3 separate regions of the Homo sapiens genome follow, and regions 1 and 2 are each reported to be linked to region 3. The links are microRNA targets in miRTarBase. Many come from high-throughput screens and were not tested one by one. Region 3 holds a microRNA gene; each other region holds the end of a gene's coding sequence.

Region 1 (7,199 bases), not on the chromosome of region 3:
CTACAGGTGTTCACCACCACCCCCAGGAAATTTTTGTAATTTTAGTAGAGACGGGGGTTTCGCCATGCTGGCCAGGCTGGTCTTGAACTCCTGACCTCAAGTGATTCCTGCCCCCACCTTGGCCTTTCAAAGTGCTGGGATTATAGGTGTGCGCCACTGCGCCCAGCTGGAACTATTTCCTTTAGGCCAACCTGAAAAACTGAGCTTGGCATAATGATAATGGTTGCGCTCTCAAAAAAATAAAAGCATTTAACAACCTACATGATCTTCAGTATATAGTAGCAATAAGAGTATTAATTCTGAAATTGTATATCTTGAAGATTTCTAAAAAATGCAAACTTGCTTCTTCAGAAATAAATTACAGAAAAAAAGAAACTCTTCAAAACACAAATTTTAAAAAATGACACTAGACTGTAAGCTCCACAGGGCAGGGATTTTTGTCACTTCTGTGCTCTGCTAGATCTCCAGTGCCTAGGACAGGGCCTGGCACATGGTAGATGCTCAGTAAATACATGGTGAATGTATATATATATATATATATTTGAGACGGAGTCTCGCACTGACGCCCGGGCTGGAGGGCAGTGGTGCGATCTCGGCTCACCGCAACCTCTGCCTCCCAGGTTCAAGCGATTCTCCTGCCTCAGCCTCCAGAGTAGCTGGGATTACAGGTGCCCGCCACCATGCCCAGCTAATTTTTTGTATTTTTAGTAGAGACAGGGTTTCACTATGTTGGCCAGGCTGGTCTCGAATGCCTGACCCCGTGATCCACCCACCTCGGCCTCCCAAAGCGCTGGAATTACAGGTGTGAACCACTGCACCCGGCTGGTGAATGAACACTTTAACAATAAAGTTTGATTAAAAATTTAAGAAATTACAGGTGCCCTCGATAGACAATGGATCAACTGGAAACTAAAAAGCCAGATAATTTTGCATCTTAAATTGACCCTGAAATGAACTGAGTAAGTCCAGTTCTTTTCCATTTACAACTGGTTATTGGTTTAAAAAGCAGCCAAAGACTCCAGTTGAGAAAAACTAAGTAATTGGATATATTTTAATACATAAAATGTTACACTTGTTAAATGTTACTGACCATAGCTTTCTCATCCCTGCTTATGATCCTTGTTGGCTTTTATTTTCTAACATTCTTTAGGCTGCAGGTAACAGAAAGCAAACTCCAACTAAACTGAAGCAGTAAACAAGTGGAAGGACTCCGAGGTGGCTGACGAGCTTGACAAACAAGCTCACGGGCCCTCCCTCAAGGACTAGAAGGCAAGGCTGAAAACCATCAGGACTCTGCCTCTCGCTGGATGTCTGCTTCATTCTCAATTTTTTCCCATGAGGTTGGAATCAAGGTTGTCAGCCATCACTGGGACTTCTTCCTTTCCTGAGAGAAAGTATCTTCCTAGCTTCAGTTGGAGAGATCCTAGGGAAGGACACCTATGTGACCTATTTGGGGTCACATTCCTGTCCTGTGGACTGGTGTCTGTGACCAGGGAGGAAAGATGGGAAAGAACTTGAACTTTGAGGCCGGGCGCAATGGCTCAGCAGTGGCTCACGCCTGTAATCCCAGCACTTTGGGAGGCCAAGGCAGGTGGATCACGAGGTCAGGAGATCGAGACCAGCCTGGCCAACATGGCTAAAATTACAAAAATCTACTAAAAATACAAAAATTAGCCAGGTATGGTGGCGGGCACCTGTAATCCCAGCTAATCGGGAGGCTGAGGCAGGAGAATTGCTTGAACCCAGGAGGTAGAGGTTGCAGTGAGCTGAGATCACACCACTGCACTCCAGCCTGGGTGACAAGAGTGAGACTCCATCTCAAAAAAAAAAAAAAAAAAAAAGAAAAAAGACCTTGAACATTTTGAACGTCTCCCCCTTAGACCATGTTAGTAGGATGAAGAGGACAGAGTAGCTCCCCTGAAAGAGGGGTGGGCCATTCTCAGGAATGTCTTACTGAGGGTCACAGTCGGTGAGGAACTGGATTGGCATCTAGCTTAGTATGTTTTCCATTAAAGACCAGTGTTTCCACAAATAAATGCAGCCCACAGACCGGTGTTTGATACTTGGCTTTACTTTATAAAAATACACAACTTAAATACATATGACACTCTGTTTACAAGACATAAACTGGTAGATTTAACATTTTCAGTTATTTCAACAGAAAGAAAATATGTAAATTACCTTGTAAGAGCAAAGAGTTCATTTATAGACTCTGCTTTCACAGTTAAGGGGGAAGAACGCCCAGGGGCAATCAATGCAGGAAGCTAACCAACACTGTCCAGCTCTCCAGCAAAACTCATCTTGCCAACAGGGCCTCTATTGCACCGCCTAATATTGCACTGCTCGTTAGACACCATCTCACTTATCCATGTCACCAGTGTAAGCTTTTGTCTTCTCTAGAAAAGTTTAATGGAAAAAAACGATGTACAAACAGTAAAACTGTATCTTACAATTGTGCTAAATACCAATTATGAGAAGTACGAACCTCTCTTCACTTTGCAAAGCTTGCAATGGAAAGTGGTTAGCTATATTTTGCAGCTAAGTTCATTTTCAAAAGTTTTACAAAACCTTTGATTCAGAGTAAGCTTGATGGGGTACAGTGGCAAAGGAGGTGACATTCCCATGCCTAGTGGAATTAGTTGTAAGACGCGCACTGTCACTGTCAAAGGCAACAAGCACATGGCTTACAGCTCCACCTTTCTAACTTTTGGCAAAATCCCTCCCTTCCCCTTGTGATGTTGTCATTGTTCAATGGGGCACAGCTCCTTTTTTTTTTTTTTCTTTTTTTTAAAAAACTGATTCAGAGCTTGCAGTGGCTGCTTACTTACTCTGGCTATCTTTCAGAAATTTAGCTGCCTTATCTATAGCTCATTTAACTAACAGTGAATTAGGTACTAGTTTATAGGTATAAAGAAATAGTTACTTAGTTGAGAATTCAATATATGAGAACATACTAGAGTAAGTTTCCTGAGGTAAAAGTATGCCTTAAAGAATGATGTGCAATCTATAAAACTGTAGCATTTTCTCTTGGGTAGCAACACAATGACCCCCAAGTCTGGATTTTTAAATTAACAGGCTAAGAAAACTAAGGACACATTGATATAGAGAAATAAAATAACAATGCTGAAGTCAAAGAAATATTGACAGCTGAGATATCAATTCAAAAGGAGGCATGAAGGGGAACAGAGGAACAGAAGGAGGCTGTATTTTAAAGTGCTTAGGTAGGTTAGAAGATGAATTTGAAATGCCTCCAGGGATTTCTAACAAGTTTAAAAAGTGTTACTTCTTGGTGACTCAGATGTTGAAGACATGGCTTTTCTTTAATAATAGCTATTCAAACTTTTTATTCTTTTTTGAAAAACAAGATTCTCTATAAAAACGTTTTAGCCATTGTAATTATTCTGCTAGCTGTTACTCTCACTAATGTATTTTGAAATCCTAACTGGCTGAAGAATTTTTAATAAGGTTGAACTACAAAGCACACATTTGCACCAAGAATTTAAATTAATGCATAGATGTCTGTGAAATTCTGCATGAAGTTAGTGCCAAAAAAACCTTTCCATTGCAGATCATGCTTTATTTCTTAATATTCTGCTGAAGGATTATAGAAATCAGAAAAATTCTAGGACCCTGAAGCTTAACTTGCTTATTTTATTCCTTTTACGTAAATGAAGTGGTATATGGCCATTCTTAACATTAATAATGAAGGTGTTGGAAACTGAGTCTCAAGACCTAAGAATCAAGCTCAGGCTAAATTTCACCAACTCACACATAAGGATATGAGTGGGAGCACTAATGAATTTTCTCTGCTGTAATTGCTCATCTGTGCAATACGGCTGAATGAGGTTCCCAATCTAGTATTTAATAACAGTGATGAAAACTGGCACCAGCTTTCATAGAGGGCCACACATTCAGAGTTGTCGTGTCAATTCGGGCTGACGCTACCGTGCACGATCCCTCATTCATATGACTTCTACATTCTGCTGTGAGGACAGACATGTCTGAGTGCTTTCAGCATGATAAAGGCCTTCCTTAAGCAAAATTTAGGTCCCGAAGAACTCTGGGTTGGAGTTCTGTAGCCTCAGAAGCCAGTTAAAGGCCAGAGGAAAACCTCGCAAGAAATAACATATATCAATCAGTTCATTTAAAAAGTTGTTTTGATATTACCAAGATGAAAAGTGCGATGATAAAGCAACGCTCTGGTTTCCTGAAGACAAGCTCAGTGCAGCCCAAGTACAGGCATACAGTGAAAAGCTGCTGTGTGGAAAATCCACAAGGCTGCAGTGGGCTTGGATTGGAAGAAAGTGGCTTTTCTTCTTAGGAGGTAAGGTAGATGCTCTTTGGCAATCGATATGGGATAGCTTTTTAAAATTCACAGGACAGGAAGATTTTATATACTTTCAAGCCCCAATTAGTACAGCTAATTGAAAGTATATAAAAATGTGAATTAGTGTGGTTGCAGCTAAAAGTATGAGTGATGTAACAAGAATGACGACGTAATGAGTCAAGTGGTGAGACTAGTTCTATAAGCACCGTAAGGAGTGCCAGTCCTAATACATGAACTTCATCCATCCCTTGTATATCAAGGAGGAGACTGTGGTCAGAGAATGTATTTTGTAAGCTATAGTTTAAAAATATTACTCTTCAGAAATTTGGAGCCCAAGCAGGAATTACAGAGATTCCTCCCAACAGAGGCCCTGAGATCTCCCCTGACTGCCACCCAAAGGATCCACACTTGCCTCTGATCAACCAGATTCAGGCCAAGGCTTAGAAGAGGGAGGAGGCAGTGGCCAGAAGCCAGGGACTCTAGAGGAGAGAAATGATGGCAGATGTGGGGTTCAGAAAAAACACAAGACGGGAAGGGGAAGAGGGGAAAAAAGGAAGAAACAACACTGGTGAGGAAGTGTAGAAGAGGCCAACTTTGCTGAGGAGTGGCCCTGCCTTTCTCACCTGCCTGTGGCAAAGGCTGGCAGTAAGACAAGGGCTAAGCCTCATAAGGAGTCTCTCCTACTGCATCAAGCTTGCCCCAAGCTTGGCTGGCCTTTCCTCTGCTGATGTGCATAATCTTTAAGTGCGACCTCTAAGTACCTTTTTTTTTTTTCTTTAAGAGACAAGATCTTACTATGTTGCCCAGGTGGGACTTGAGCTCCTGGGCTTAAGCAATCCTCCTGTCTCAGCCTCCTGAGTAGCTGGGACTACAGGCGGATACTACTGCAGCTGGCTCCTCCAAGTACTTCTGTCTTGGGGCCTGATTCCTCATTCCCAGGTGCACAGTGCTCTCTACTGCTACCAGCAACCATTTCTATGGCAAGGGAAAGGCCTCAGATCCAGGGACAGGATAGGCAGCAGCCAGTGTACCTAGAATTTGTGGCTGCCACCACCTTTTCTCTTAGGACTGGCTTGTCTCTCCCACTGGTGGCTGCAGAAGAGGAACAGAGTGAATATCATAAAGGAATGCTCAATTCAGAACTGTATCACCTCATTTTACAAACTCCCAAAGGGCTGCCAAGAGTCATCATTATAGATCGATGGGTTAAAATACCACCTAAGGAACTCATTGTAAAAGCAGCAACTTGTCTGTAAGGTCACACCAAACTTACAGGGGTTCTGATGTTGTTTGCTTCCATTTTTGTTATTTTCTTCTCTGATGATGAATTCCGTAAAAAAGAAAAAGTGAAAGGGTCCTCTTGTCCTCTCTTCCCTCCTCCAGGAACCTTGTGGATTTCCCCAAGTGAAATGTCTAAGTGATACTATAATTACAGAGCTGACGAATGAGAAAAAAATTCAGAATTATCTAGAAATATGAAATGAAGTACAGGGTGTGACGCTCAGTTCACTTCATACAAATGCAGGTCATTTCTCAGTAAAATGTCTATGAAATGGGTACCTGAATTACTGATATACAAATGACAACACATGAATGAAAAGAGCAGTGAGATTCTGGGAAGGAAAACTCCACGTTGGTTATTTCACCTCTAGGGAAAGTCTGTTTGCATTTGAGTCCCACATGTGGCTTTTTTCTGTACTTTCTACTTGATGTTTTTCAGGAGGGCTGTCCGAGCATTCACAACTGCTTTGAAGGCATCTTCACTGCCAGGTGCTACACATTTGTCAGGGTGAAGAAGCACAGCAAGTTTCCGATACGCTTTATTGACTTCATCCCTGGGAAAAGAAGCCAAGATCTATGTTAGTAACAGAGTCAGCCCAACCCACTGCATGTTAGCTGTTTGGACACACATAGTATCTCTTACAGTGAACATATCCTAAATTATTACCCTTTCTCAAAGGCAGGATTAAAGGACTAGAAAACAGACAACCAACCAATAAATAGTATGTAATATATAACACAAATTGAAAAAGTTATTATTGCACAATGCAAAAAGTATATAAATGCTAACAAAACACTTAGTAAAATAATAATCAGATGAAAACAGGCAGTACTTGGCACCTCACAGGCACTCAGCATATCTTTGCTGATTGAAAGAATAAGGGCTTGGGCACCAGGGAAGGCATCCAGAGTTGCCTTCTGAAAGAAGGGGTTCTGGGAGAGAACCAACAGTGGCCTGGAATGGAGCCCGAACACAGCACAGACGGGAAGCAAAACAACCCCAACACCTGGGCCTGATAAACAATCACAACAGTAGGTGTTTCATGACAAGTGTGTGCTGGGAAAACTGTTTCTTGAAGTTAGGATACAGGAGGTTGTTACATAACCCAGGCATGAGTGAGTACAAGTTTAGATTAAGGTATTTATGGAAGGAAACAAGGGAAGATAAAAGATAAAGAAAGAAATGGCAGAAGTGGATGATGAGCTGAATATCCAGGAGGAGAAGATGAAAAGAAAGGGGCTGAAATGAGCTCCAGGGTCAAGGTCACGAGGAATCTGAGGCCCAAGAAGGTGACACCACTGAGCAAGCAAGGGATGCTGGAAAGGGGTAGTCCAGAATGACAATGAGCTCACGAGACCAAAGAAGAAACACGACAGAGATCAGTATTATCCAGAGAGGAAAGGAGCAGTAGCAGTGCTTCTCCAATCCGGCGGTTCCGATAAACCAGCAGCGCTCCAGGAGAGAGCTGCAGGCTTCTGAGCTCCTCAAAGAGCCAAAACTGGCTGGGGAGGGGCCTGGACCCATCTGTCCCTGTCCCCACTGGTCATCATCCTCTGGTGTCAGGCCTCCCAGAGGGCTCTAAGTACCCAG
Region 2 (7,163 bases), not on the chromosome of region 3:
AGTTTGCCCTAAACTGTGGCAAACTGGGAGACACAGTTGCCACAGCGGTTGGGGGCTACCCACCCCTTGCAACAGAATCCTGCCATTTCAGCCCAAGTCCTCCGTGAACCACCTATGAAGTTCTCCCTCCTCAATATGAGTTGTCTAGACCTGGGGATCCCATTAAGTGGCAATCCATGAAGATCATTGAGGATCAAATCGATTATGTATGTGAGAGTGTTTTATAGACCATCAAGTTTCCTTCTTTCCATTTCAAAACCCTATAGAAAGACTAGGGGGATAAAAGAAAAAGAAGTAAAGAGGATTTGACCAAATTAATAAGTCCGATTTGTAGTCAAAGAGTTCTGTTAAATCCACATTATAGTTTTGTTTCTTTCTTTTTTTAGACACAATTAGAACAGTTACCAGAACACATCAAGGAGCCAATCTGGGAAACACTATCAGAAGAAAAAGAAGAAAGCAAGTCATAAAGCCTCAGGGAGGCCATTTTTGCCTAAATTTGAAATGAGGGTGGGCCAGATGAGTATGTTTAAGTGGAGAGTGCTTCCAGCTGAGATGATTTGAGTCTGCCCTAACTGCTCCATTGAGTTCTCGTGCCCTCATCAGCTGAGGGCAGGGAATGGAACTTTAATGGAAGAACCACTTTTATCTATTCTTTTTATTCATTGTTTCAGTTCTGATTTCAGCAAACATGAGCAAACCACTTTGACTGAAAGCAGAAAGAGTGAAAATTCTATTTTGTTACGCTACTGGTGTTCAATTATTAGTTTGTACCATTTTTAATTTATGTCAGTTGATGCATCTGAAAATAAGTGCTTGGAGTGTTCGTACCCTTATTTTTTTTTAAGATTCCTAGAAGGAATCTTTGGTTAATTCAGATTGAGCAGTTAAAGTTTTTGCTATTTACCTTTGTGCAGGCTGGCATATGCTAATTTGGGGGTGGTAACCAACCGATTTTATCTCATGTAAGCATTACATTTTGAAGACTGAATATACTTCACAGCAGATCAAACACATTTATGGCATGCACTGACCTCTTCTTGGAGCCCAGAACTTTATAGAGTTGCCTACCAGGGTTACTGTAATGGAATTTATGATCTTAAGAAATTACTAGTTGTATTATTTATCCTATGATTCATTCATTCAATAAGCTTTTACTGCATAAACTTTACATCCAGCACTGTAGTTAAGTACCCAAAATTGAATAGAAATAATGGCTTTTGAAAATCGCACAAAGCAGGCCAGGCACGGTGGCTCACGCCTGTAATCCCAGCATTTTGGGAGGCCGAGGCAGGCGGATCACGAGGTCAAGAGATCCAGACCATCCTGGCTAACACGGTGAAACCCCGTCTCTAATAAAAATACAAAAATTAGCTGGACATGGTGGCACGTGCCTGTAATCCCAGCTACTCAGGAGGCTGAGGCAGGAGAATTGCGTGAACCCGGGCCCGGTGGAGGCTGCAGTGAGACGAGATCGCGCCACTGCACTCCAGCCTGGCGACAGAGCGAGACGCCGTCTCAAAAAAAAAAAAAGAAAATTGTGCAAAGCATAGGTAAATATTTTTCTTTATTAAGCTTCTCACTGAGAAGCCCTCTTTATTTTGGTAAATGTCACTCTGTTTGTTAGGAGATGTCTGCTTTTCCATGAAATGAAATAGTGGCTAAAGCCCTGAAAGAGGCAAGACTACAATGGGCTGAAACAGTTGGTATAGCAACCCCAGAGAAGTGCTTCATTTTCTTTTTATAGTAGAAGCAGGTCCATGTCTTTTGTGGTTTCCTGCACATCTTTGGAGTAGTTATGACTTCTCAGTTTTTCCCCCCTTAAACTGCATTGCCTATTCTTTTTTCCTGACATGCTATCAGGTATCAGTGTGTTGAATACATACTGCTTGTGTATCAGACTTACGTTACTGTCATCACCATTAAAAGAATTGCAGCTTTGTGCCCCATGACCTTCAGCTCAGTTGTTGACTGTCATTCATGAATGCCTAAAGCATACTGACACCAGGTATAAGTACTTGAAGATCAAGAACTAGTCAATAAAACATGAGCAACATAATGGTAACTATGTGCAGCAAAGCAGCAATTTATGACACATTTTCATCTGAAGTAATTCTTTAAAAATAAATATAGACCCGGCCGGTTGTGGAGGCTCAAGCCTGTAATCCCAGCACTTTGAGAGGCTGAGGCAGGTGGATCACCTGAGGTCAGGAGTTCGAGACCAGCCTGGCCAACATGGTAAAACCCCATCTCTATTAAAAACACAAAAATTAGCTGGTCATGGTGGTGGGCGCCTGTAATCCCAGCTACTTGGGAGGCTGAGGCAGGAGGATTGCTTGAACCCAAGAGGTGGATGTTGCAGTGAGCCGAGATTGTACCATAGCACTCCATGTAAACCAAAGTCCTTAGTTTAGGACTTCCAATTATGTGTTAAAACCTCGGCTTAAATAAGCAAATGAACTACATGTGCACACATGCACGTGAGAAAAACTAGCAGTATTTCTTTTTTCTTTTTCTTTCTTTTTTTTTTTTTTTTTTTGAGATGGAATCTTGCACTGTCACCCGGTCTGGAGTGCAGTGGCGCGATCTCGGCTCATTGCAACCTCTGCCTCCCAGGTTCAAGCGATTATCCTGCCTCAGCCTCCCAAGTAGCTGGGACTACAGGCATGTGCCACCACGCCCAGCTGATTTTTGTATTTTTAGTAGAGATGGGGTTTCCCCATGTTGGCCAGGATGGTCTTGATCTCTTGACCTCGTGATCCACCTGCCTCGGCCTCCCAAAGTGCTGGGATTACAGGCATGAGCCACTGCGCCTGGCCCAAAACTAGCAGTATTTCTTCGACGAAAGTATTTGGCATATTTGAAGCCCGCTTCTTGATATAAACAAGTTTGGCATGAAGTACAGTACTGAAAAAATGATATAAACAAAATAACTTCTTAGCTTATCAGGATATAGCTATCTTGATAGGCTAAGAAGATTTTTGGTTTTCTTTTGTTGGTTTTAAATTAGGCCTCTGAGTAAAATGCATATCCTGAAAATTAGAATTAATGCCTGGGTCACACTTTCTGTCCATGGTGGGTATGGGAGATGGTGAGAGAAGAGTGGATTTGATAATATATGTTGGTGCAAAAGTAATTGCAGTTTTTGCCATTAAAAGTAATGGCAAAAAAAAAATAGAATGAACCGGCCAGGAGTGGTGACTCACGCCTGTAATCCCAGCACTTTGGGAGGCTGAGGCGGGCGGATCATGTGAGGTTGGGAGTTGGAGACCAGCCTGGCCAATATGAGAAACCCTGTCTCTTCTAAAAATACAAAATTAGCAGGGTGTGGTGGCGCATGCCTGTAATCCCAGCTACTTGGGAGGCTGAGGCAGGAGAATCCCTTGAACTCAGAGGTTGCGATGAGCCAAGATCACGCCATGGGCAACAAGAGTGAAACTCCATCTCAAAAAAAAGAAAAAAAATAGAATGAACCAGAAGGCAGGTAGGAAGTGAGATGATCTTTTTTCTTTTTCTTTTTTTTTTTTTTTTTTGTAGAGACAGAGTCTTGTTCTGTTGCCCAGGCTGGAGTGCAGTGGTACGATCAAAGCTCACTACACAATCGAACTTATGGGCTCAAGGGATCTTCCCACCACAGCCTCCCAAGTAGCTGAGACTAAATGTGTGCACCACCACACTCAGCTCATTTTTTTATTTTTTGGAGTCAGGGTCCTGCTCTGTCGCCCAGGCTGGAGTGCAGTGGCATGAACACAGCTCACTGCAGCCTTGACCTCCTGGGCTCAGATGATCCTCCTGCCTCAGCCTCCCAGGTAGTTGGAACCACAGGCATGTACCATGATACATGGCTAATTTTTTAATCTTTTTGTAGAGATGGGGGTCTCACTTTGTTGCCAAGGCTGGTCTCAAATTCCTGACCTCAAGTGATTCTTCGGCCTTGGCCTCCCAAAATACTGAGATTACAGGCATCAGCCATCATGCCCAGCCTATATTTTCTTCATATTAAATAAAATCATGTTCTCATCCAAGAGTCTTAGTATAACTACAGATCTCTGGTAAGACAGACTAAACTAGTTCAAGTGCCAAGTTTCAGTGCTTTGAAAGAATGGCATATGTTCCTGGCCCTATGACCATTTAAACATGCCACAGTGAATACATAAAGCAATCATTTTAAATTATTAGTCTAGTTTCTTAACATTTCTAGTTGTCTGCAACCATCCCTGTCTTACATTACATTATTAAGTTAGTTCTATTACAAGACTAATGAATGACAGAATAGAGCAAACATGGACTTTGGAGTCAGACAGACATGAGTCAGATAAGAGTTCAAACCCACTGACTGCCGTAAACTTGGGCAAGAGATTTAACCCTGTCAGGGCCTCAGTGTACTCATTAGTAAAGGTAATAATAAGTCTGTAGGAAATAATACCTACATACTTACATTTGACATATATTTAATGCTCCAGCTTAATAAGGTTGGAGTATTCGATAACTGATAAAAAACCTTGCACAGTATTGAGCAGGTAACAGACATTCAGTAAATGGCAGTACCATTCCGATGATACTTTAGATGCTTGTGTGCTATACTGTTCAAGAACCAGCTGGAAAAGACCTCAGGTTACCTCCAGGGTAGGGATAACATTTACCTTAGAGTTTTTGTTTTTGTTTTTTTGAGATGGAGTCTCGCTCTATCACCCATGCTGGAGTGTGGTGGCACAATCTCACTGCAAGGTCCGCCTCCCAGGTTCACTCCATTCTCCTGCCTCAGCCTCCCGAGTAGCTGGGACTACAGGCACCCGCCACCACGCCCAGCTAATTTTTTGTATTTTTAAGTAGAGACGGGGTTTCATTGTGTTAGCCAGGATGGTCTCGATCTCCTGACCTCGTGATCCGCCCGCCTCGGCCTCCCAAAGTGCTGGGATTACAGGCATAAGCCACCGCACCCAGCCCTTAGCGTTGTTTTTCAGACAGTTCTGGCTCTATCACCCAGGCTGGAGTGCAGTGACAATCTTGGCTCACTGTAACCTCCGCCTCCTGGGCTTAAATGATCCTCCTACCTCAGCCCCCTTAGTAGCTGGGACTATAGGCACACATCACCACACTCGGCTAATTTTTCTTTTTTTTTCTTTCTTTTTTTTTTCTGTAGAAACAGGGTTTTGCCATGTTGCCCAGGCTGGTCTCAAACTTGTAAGCTCAAGCAATCTGCCAGCCTCAGCCTCCCAAAGTGCTGGGATTATAGGCATGAGCCACAGCGCCCAGCCACAAACCAAAAATCCTTTGATTTTTATTAACACACTGAAGTACTTACCATTGTCCCCATTTTACAGGACAGAAAACCAAGGCTTAGAGAGTTGTTATTTGCCCACTCAGTCACCCTTTCAGCTTACAGATGAAGCTGTTAGTGACAGGGTCAGCCCTAGAAGCTAATTTGTAAGCAGGCTATGAGGTACTCAAATATCCACATACTAAATGCAGAATATTCAAAGCTAAATTCCAGGTTTGTTCACCTCTCACGTTACCAAAATGTACTCGTTTCCTCTAAAGCAGGGGTGTCTAATCTTTTGGCTTCCCTGGGCCACATTGAAAGAATTGTCTTGGGCCACACATAAAATACACTAACGCTAATAATAGCTAATTAAAAAAAAAATCATGAAAGAAAATCTCACAATGTTTTAAGAAAGTTTACCAATTTGTGTTGGGCTGCATTCAAAGCCGTCCTGGGCCGCATGCAGCCCGTGGGCCTCCAATTGGATAAGCTTGGTCTAAAGCTTAGAAGTAAAGTGATTGACTGGGAGGAAAAATTAATGAATTAAAGCAAGAAGCAAGATACACGGCACAATTTAGGTGGTCCCACTGCTCAGACTGGTCCTGAGGGAGGGGGCAACACAAGAGTTTAGGCATCAGCAAGGGGAGTCCTACTCGGTCACAAGAACACTCAGATGGAGATGATTCACAGTGGGGCTTCAGGTCCAGCCTGACTAGGGCTCAGAAGACATGGGTTTGTCGATTTTAAGCATATCTTTGCCCCTGGAGCCAGGCTTATGGCTGACTGCCTGCAATCCCCAGGACTCTCTTTCCAAATCCCCTGCTCAATTCCTAACCCTGCCCTCCTTAAATCCTTTCTATTGTTACTCACTTCAAGCTCTCATTTCTCTCTATGGATTCTTAATCCTCTTTATTTTATTTATCTATTTATTTATTTATTTTATTTTTATTTATTTATTTGTTTATTTTTTGAGACAGGGTCTGACTGTCGCCCAGGCTGGAGTGCAGTGGCACAATCTCGGCTCACTGCAACCTCTGCCTCCCAGGTTCAGGCGATTCTCGTGCCTCAGCTTCCTGAGTAGCTGGGATTACAGGCACCCGCCACCACGCCCAGCTAACTTTTGTATTTTTAGTAGAGATGGGGTTTCGGTGTGTTGGCCAGGCTGGTCTCAAACTCCTGACCTCAAGTGATCCGCCCACCTCAGCCTCCCAAAGCGCTGGGATTACTGGCTTGAGCCACCATGCCCGGCTGGATTTCTAATCCTCTTTAAAATGATATATTTATAACTCAGTAGCTCAGCGACATTTATTTATAGGGCAGGTCATGGGCAACTGACCCACATGAAAAACCAATTGAATTTTAAATTCCTCGGCCAGAGGTTAAATCAAGTTATATTTCACTCATAAAATTTCTTAACTTGGGCAGAGATACTGTACTTTAATCAATCTTCAATGCTGCTTAAATAATAAGTGTTAAGAGATGGATGGAGCCTGGCCAACATGGCAAAACACCACCTCCACTAAAAATACAAAAATTAGCTGGGCATTCCAGGTGCTTAGGAGGCTGAGACATAAGAATTGCTTGAACCCGGAAGATGGAGGTTGCAGTGAACCGAGAGTGTTCCACTGCACTCCAGCCTGGGTGACAGAGGAAGACCCTGTCTCCCTGTCTAAAAAAAGAGAGATGGATGGGAATAATACTACCTTCACACCAAGCCAGTTGAGATGCTGCTGTTACAGAGCCACGGCTGCTGATGGGCATGTGTTATCTTAAAGTGTGTTGAGATGGGTAATTGGAAATTAATGGGCTAGATAATCTTCAAGGCCTTTTCCAGTTCTAAAATCCCATTATCATTTTTATCTCAACAAATACCTGCTAATCTAGACACTAAACAGAGTCA
Region 3 (7,199 bases):
ACATTATCGCCTGTGTACAACCAGTGTCTACTGCTCATGGTATCTTCTTCCCTATTTCATGAGCTCTAAGAGTTTTCCTGGGCAGAAAGTCTCACCACCCTAGATGTGTGTCTGGGGCAGTGACAGTGGCACCACTGCAAATTGTTCTCAAATTTGTGCTTATTTTTGAGAAGGTGTGAGTTTGTGTGTGAGTATGTGTGTGTTGGTTTTTACAAATGAGTTAATTTAGTTAGTTGATTCGTTCATGTGCATATTGTGGTTGGGTTTGGGGGGACTTTTCAAATTGTTTTTGCTTAGTAATATTGTTTATCCAGACATTGGTAACTGTCTGATTTTGGTTTTGTTTTTGTTTTTTGTGATATTATTTTGTTTATAATTGTCCTTTCATTTCCAGTCTCTGTGCATTTATTTTTCAAAGTTGGTTCTTCCTTTTTAGGTTTATTTGTTTATTTTGTTTGCTTGTATTATTATTTTTAACTGACACATAATCATTGTACATATTTTGGGGGTACAGTGTGATTTTTTATTGTTTGCAATTCAGTGTTCATGGCACCTCTGCTTGTTGTTTCGTTGCATACTTGAAGTTTTTTTTTTTTTTTAAGTTAGAATTGTGGTTTGTGTTTCAGCAAATGTTTTATTCCTGTTTCGGGGGGAGGGGGCTGTCATGATTTAATTATTAGTTGTTGGTTCCAATCTGAGTTTTCTTCTTTGGTTTTGATTTGGTTTTAATTTATGCGTTTGGTTTGATTTGTACTGAGAGGTGCTTGGGAGTTGTTTTAGTTGTAGTTTCCTTTGTGTATTTAGACATGTTTGTTTCTTTCCTGCTGTTTTGCTATATCTTTCTTTGTTTTATTCTCTAGTGTATTTCTATTTGCTTTTCAGCTGACTTTTTGTGTGTATATGTGAGTGGGTGGGTGGGTGGATGGATGTGGGTGTGTATGCGTGCATTTCTGTGATTATTTTTGAATGATGTTGACTTCTTTAAAGTATTTTGTTATTTTCCATGTATTTTTAGTTTCAGTTTGTGTTTATTGTTTTATTTTGTGTGTGTGTGTGGGGGGGGGGGGTTCTTCATTTTCCTTGTGTTTTGGGATATTTAAATTTGTATGAATTTTGTTTTGTTGCTGTAGTTATTTTTTCCCCTTTAATTGTGTGGGGCTCAGAAAGTTTTGTCTTTCATATATATGTGCGCTTTATTGGGGATGTGTTTTTTTTTTTAAGTTGTGGGAGTTTGCTTGGATTTTAAATGTTTTGCCTCAGTATCTGTGTGTATGCTTACATGGTTTGGTATTTGCAACATGCTTTCTAATTGATAAGTTCATGTATTGATTCTGTTTGGAATTTGTTGTAGTTGATTTATTTATTTATTTTAATCCTGTTTGTTGAGCTTTTCTAATTTGGGATGATTGTTGATAGGGGTTTAAAAATATATTATTGGTTTACTTTTTAGTTTTTATTTATTTGTGCCCTGTTTTTCTGATTCATTACTTTTTAAAAAATCATTTATAGAAGTTTTGGTACATAAGGCTAAAATTTCTTTCTTTTGTTAGGGATAATTTGCATTATTTGTTGATTGATTTTTTTTTTTTAGCTTATATGGTTTTTTTGAATTGTGTGTATGAGCATGTGTTTGTTATTTTGAGATTTTTGTATTGTGATAGCTTTAGTTCTTAAAAAGCGTCGTTGATACATGACTGACATAAAGTTTGCGCTTTGACATATTCTGTTTATACACCCATGAAATCATCCCCTAAATCAAAATAAATAGGGAATATTATACATCCTCCCTGAAAGATTCCTCCTGCCTCTTTGTGATCCTCATTTTCGGTCTTCTGCACATAACCACAGAGCCATGCAGCCACTAATCTGCTTTTATTCACTATGGATTAGATTTTATTTTCCAGATTCTTATTTTTTATTTTTTGAGATGGAGTCTCTCTCTGTCACTCAGGCTGGAGTGTAGTGGCGTGATTTCGGCTCACTGTAAATTCTGCATCCCAGGTTCAAGCAATTCTCCTACCTCAGCCTCCCGAGTACCTGGGACTACAGGCGCACACCACCATGCTGAGCTAATTTTTGTATTCTTAGTAGAGACGAGATTTCACCATGTTGGCCAGGCTGGTCTCAAACTCCTGACCTCAACTGAACCTCCCACCTCAGCCTCCCAAAGCGCTGGAATTACAGGCATGAACCACGGTGCCTGGCCAAAATTTTTTATTAAAATGGAATCATACTGTATATACTGTTTATTTTGGCCTAGCTTATTTCTCCTGGCATAATTATTTTGAAATTCGTCCACATTGTTATTTGCATCAATAATTTATTTGTTTTTATGGATGAGTAGTATTCCACTGTATGGATATTCCAGTTTTTTTTAAATGCATTCACCTGTTAATGGCCATTTGTCTCCAGTTTATAGCTATTTTGGCTTTGACTACTAGAAAAGACGTAGCTATGAACCTTGATATAAAAATATCTGTATGGAGAGGCAGAAGGAGAGAAGGAGAAAGAGAGGGGAGGGGAAGAGGAGAAAGGGGAGAAGGGAGAGGGTGGAAGAGGGAGAGAGAAGGAGAAGGGGAGGGAGGGGGAGGAGAAAGTAGAGGGGGAGGGAGAACCAATTCCTGGAGCCCACAGGAAGCACGACCTGGGAAGCAAGGTGTAAATGTTACATGTCCATATCAGAGGATGGGATAGAATTTGATAGTCTGCTGCTACATTATCTCCCAGGAAAGCTCTTTCAAATCATGTCTTTCTTGGTGTCTAGTTGGCAACTGATGATGTGTGTGGATTTTGTTTTTGCAGTGGCCAAATACCTCACTTCACCCAAAGTCATGAGGAAATACAGGCTGTAGTGAAGAGGTGGGAAACTGTTCTACTTTGTTTTCTATCATTGTTTATTATGATACCTCATCTGTTTACTTCTCAGTGTCCACTGCTCTCCTTCCTACACTCGCAGCATTTCTCAGTGCAGTGTCGTCTATCCCTGATACGTGCTAGATTTCCTTTGAACTTCGTTCTCTGTTTTGTTTGGGATTATTGGAAAGTAAAGTTACATTTTAGTGTATTTGTTTTTATGTTTTGGGGGTTTTTGTATTGTGTATGTTCTTTTTGATTTTTGTTATTGTATTGCTTGTTTGCTTTTTTAGGGTTTTTGTTTCCTGTAGAATTTTGTATATTTGGATGTGTTTTGTATATTTTGTGTGTTTTTTTTTATTCCGATTTTGAATGGTGTTTTTAAATGTGTGTTAATTAGAATTTTCAGTAGTATTTTTACATTCTTAAAAATTGTTACTCCCGGCTGGGCACGGTGGCTCATGCCTGTAATCCCAGCACTTTGGGAGGCCGAGGCCAGTGGATCTCCTGAGGCCAGGAGTTCAAGACCAGCCTGGTCAACACGGTGAAACCCTGCTTCTACAGAAAATACAGAAAATTAGCTGGGTCTGGTGGCACATGCCTGTAATCCCAGCTACGTGGGAGGCTGAGGCAGGAGAATCGCTTGAACCCAGGAGGCGGAGGTTGCAGTGAGCTGAGATTGTGCCATTGCCCTCCAGCCTGGGCAACAAAAGCAAAACTCTGTCTCAAAAAAAAAATTGTTACTCCTTTATTGTTTTTTTAGTTGACACATAATAATTTGTAAATATTGATGAGATATAGTGAGATGTTTTGATACATACATGCATTGTGTAATAATCAAATCAGGGATTTAGTATTTTCATTACCTCAAACGTCCATCACTTCTTTGTGGGAAGAACATTCAAAACCCTCTCTTCTAGTGATTTTGGAATATACCATAAAATATTGTTAACTAACTATAATCAATCACTCTTCTGCACAATAACACATCAGAACTTTTAGCCCTCCTAACTGTGACTCTGTACCCATAAACCAATTTTTCCCCAACCCCCCTTTCCCTTCCCTTCCCCAGACTCTGGTAACCATCATTCTACTCTCTACTCCTATGAGATCAACTTTCTTAGACTCTGCGTATGAGTCAGATCATGCAGTGTTTGTCTTTGTGTTTGCATTGCCCTATTTTGTGAGCATTCGTTTTGGGGTTGTTTGTTTCATTGTTCACATGTTTATTTGCATGTGTGGCATGCATGTGTTCACATGTGTTGCAGATATTTCTTGGTCTAAACACTGGTTTGCAAGTGCATGACTGTGGTGACTACTGCTTCTGCTGCTGTAGGCCTTCATCTCTGAACAGAGGATGCCAAACCAAGGCCCCAATGATATAAAGAAGATTCAAATTGGAAAGAAGAGAACTCTCCAGCACTGCTTCAACTGAGCTCTATCTGGCCTGCAATCGCTAGATATGATGAGTCACTTGAGTGGTCCTTTCTATGTAATGACTGGCTTTTGAGGCATATGAAGTAGTTGTTCATGTGCCAACTATATTAAATTGAAAATTAGCAGAACAATTTAGTGAAGTATGCTAAGTCTGGGAGGAAGAGGGAAAATTTTCTCTCTCCTAAAATCTGTCTCATTAAATGTGCAGCAGGTGAAGTAATTAATAAGCATTCAGTGAAAGACATAGGAGACAAAAGGGAGAGGAAAAAGGGTTTGTTTTTTTTTTAATCTATTGACTATATTCTGCTTATTCCTAGTGGACTGAGAGTGTTGGGATTCTGACTGAAATGGCGGAGTGAGGGACATTTTCCGCTGTGCTGTGTGTAGTGCTTCACTTCAAGAAGTGCCATGCATGTGTCTAGAAATATGTTTTGCACCTTTTGGAGTGAAATAATGCACAACAGATACAAGTCAGAACTACCCACTCAGTGATGGGTCAACTCATACAACCCTTTAAAGAGAATTCTGTGGGGTAAAACCTAGAGGATGAGGTTCTCTGGGAATAGCCTCATCTGTAGTTTCCCCGTGTTACTATTAAGATGGTCAGTGCCACCACCATCAGCCATACTATGTGTAGTGCCTTATTCAGGAAGGTGTTACTTAATAGATTAATATTTGTAAGGCACCCTTCTGAGTAGAGTAATGTGCAACATGGACAACATTTGTGGTGGCATTGGTAATGACGAGTGGAATTTCAGTGACAATACTGCCCTCCCTTGAGCCTTGGTACCCAACCTTTAGTGATGAGCCATTTCCAGGTACTCTCTGAAGTACCTCTTGAGAGATCTGCTCCAGAATCTGAGGGTGCCTGGGAAAAGTCTCTCATGTAGGTTTTTCAATTATTTATTGCTTTTTCTCCACAAAATGACTGACTACACTGGAAACAAGATTTGAGGTAGGAACATGATACTTCTTTTTCTCTTGTACCTCTTAGTCTTTTCTCTCTATAACAACCCAAATACACTTCTTGCCTTATAAACCCCTGAGAAGTTTACACTGATCTTCTTTCCTCACAATATTTAAGCCTTCTTTTTAGGGAGCACAAATATCCTCCTGCCCTTCCCTGCTGAACTCCAAACTCCATGAACCATCTTTCTTATGAAGTGATCTCCTCAAGGCTTAGATACACTCAAATTCCCTTTAATATTCCTGTGTATCCGTGATGATAATCTCATATCAGTGGAGTTTGATATGATACCCCAAATTTGCTTTCATTTGAACTATTTATATGTTTTTAGCTGGTCTTAACTATTATGGGAACGGATGAAGTGATGAGAACATATATGTATGAACATGTGTGTACATATACTTCTGGAAACTTTACATATACAAAGGGGTTTATATATCCCTTTATATATATATATATATATATATATATATATATATATACACACACACACACACACACACACACATACATATGACATTCACAGAAAAAGGAAAAGGATGCAGAAAAAGGATCATGTTCCTACCTCAAATCTTGTTCCCAGTGTTTTGTAGTCCTTTTGTGGAGAAAAAGGAATAAATGCTTAAAAAACCTACAGGACATACTTTTCACAGGTACCCCAGGCACCCTCAGATTCTGGATCAGGTCTTATAAGACCTTCAAAGAAACACCCAGGACAATGATTGAGCAAATATATATGTATATAATTATTATAGAAGTCTATTTTTAAAATAAATCCCTTAAGATATTTATTATAAGGATACTGCAAGGAATAACCTCAGGCAACTATGGAGGCTGGTGAGTTCCTAGATCTGCAGGGGGATGGGTCAGCAAGCTGGGGACCCAGGAGAACTGATGGTATAGTTGCAGTCCAAGTCCAGAGGCCAAAGAAGCAGTAGAACAAACCATTTTGTAGTTCCAGTCCAAAGGCCAGCAGGTTTGAGACCCAGGAAGAGCTAATGTTTTAATTTGAGTACAATGCCAGAAAAAAATGAGATGCCCCAGTTTGGAGGCAGTCAGGCAGGAGGAATTCTCTCTAACTTAGGGGAGAGTCAGCCTTTTTGTTCCATTTAAACCTTCATCTGATTGGTGCAGGCCCATCCATCCACATTAGGGAGGGTGGTCTGCTTTACTCATTCTACTGATTTAAATGCTAATGTCATCCAAAAAGACCTTCACAGAAACACCCAGAATAATGACTGACCAAATGTCTGGGCACTCCATGACCCAGTCAGGTTGAAATATAGAATTAATCATCACAAGTTCACTCCTTGTCATGTTGTCACTTATACGCATCTCCTTAAATTATATTTAATCATCAAATGAGAAAAATACCAAGGTCATAATTTCATTTAATAAGATACAACTACCATTTATACAACCCAGAATTCATGAACCACTTCACCAGAAGAGGAGATAAAGTCCTGGAGTGTTGTTTGTTTACTCTTCTCCTTGGTGTTCCATAACATCAATACTATGATTATTTAAAGTTAACAACGGTTAATAACTATGATATAATATCAGTACACCTTACGTTACATGATAAGGGGATAAGAGAGACAAGAAAACACAGAAGTATATTAATAAAAATATAAGTAGAAAATACTCATGGGAACTACAATTCTCATTTCTGTAACTGTCATCTGGTGTTAGCTGGTATTTACAACTACTTTTCTTCACTACCCATTTTGTATTCCCTTTGCCTTCAGCAAGCACCTCAGCCATTATATTTTACCTGGTAGAGTGACCCAAACTTTCATTTCTGAAGGGTCTGGGCCATTAGTAGTCCTGCCAGGATTGGGTTGTTGTAGTTTTCTACTGACCTTAATCACAAGGCATAGTAATACTAAGAGACATCTTATGTATTTCAGAAATATTCTTCCTTACCTCCATTGTGGAGTAG

Evidence for each region. The annotated mature microRNA hsa-miR-506-5p reads UAUUCAGGAAGGUGUUACUUAA and lies in region 3 at 4,933-4,954, shown strand. An mRNA with a match to its seed (bases 2 to 7 or 8) in the 3' UTR can be bound and repressed. Matches are read on the target gene's strand: a 7mer-m8 pairs with bases 2 to 8, a 7mer-A1 pairs with bases 2 to 7 and ends in A, and an 8mer does both.
Region 1: miRTarBase lists DNAJC27 as a target of hsa-miR-506-5p. Seed matches in the 3' UTR shown: 7mer-m8 at 4,754-4,760.
Region 2: the mRNA of MRPS10 is a reported target of hsa-miR-506-5p. Seed matches in the 3' UTR shown: 7mer-A1 at 987-993.

Annotation. Positions count from the first base shown.
Region 1 is chr2:24,941,587-24,948,785 of GRCh38, forward strand. DNAJC27 (DnaJ heat shock protein family (Hsp40) member C27) reads right to left here. Exons shown (of 7, transcript NM_016544.3): 7 at 2,056-6,162. The coding sequence ends at 6,030. Among named protein-coding and RNA genes, the nearest start is that of ADCY3, 25 kb to the left of the region's middle.
Region 2 is chr6:42,201,596-42,208,758 of GRCh38, reverse strand. MRPS10 (mitochondrial ribosomal protein S10) reads left to right here. Exons shown (of 7, transcript NM_018141.4): 7 at 387-1,952. The coding sequence ends at 470. Among named protein-coding and RNA genes, the nearest start is that of GUCA1B, 10 kb to the right of the region's middle.
Region 3 is chrX:147,228,543-147,235,741 of GRCh38, reverse strand. It overlaps MIR506 (microRNA 506), which reads left to right and starts at 4,899; the gene lies at 4,899-5,022. MIR507 (microRNA 507) reads left to right here and starts at 4,665; the gene lies at 4,665-4,758. The region is part of intron 2 of LOC105373347 (periphilin-1); the gene reads right to left.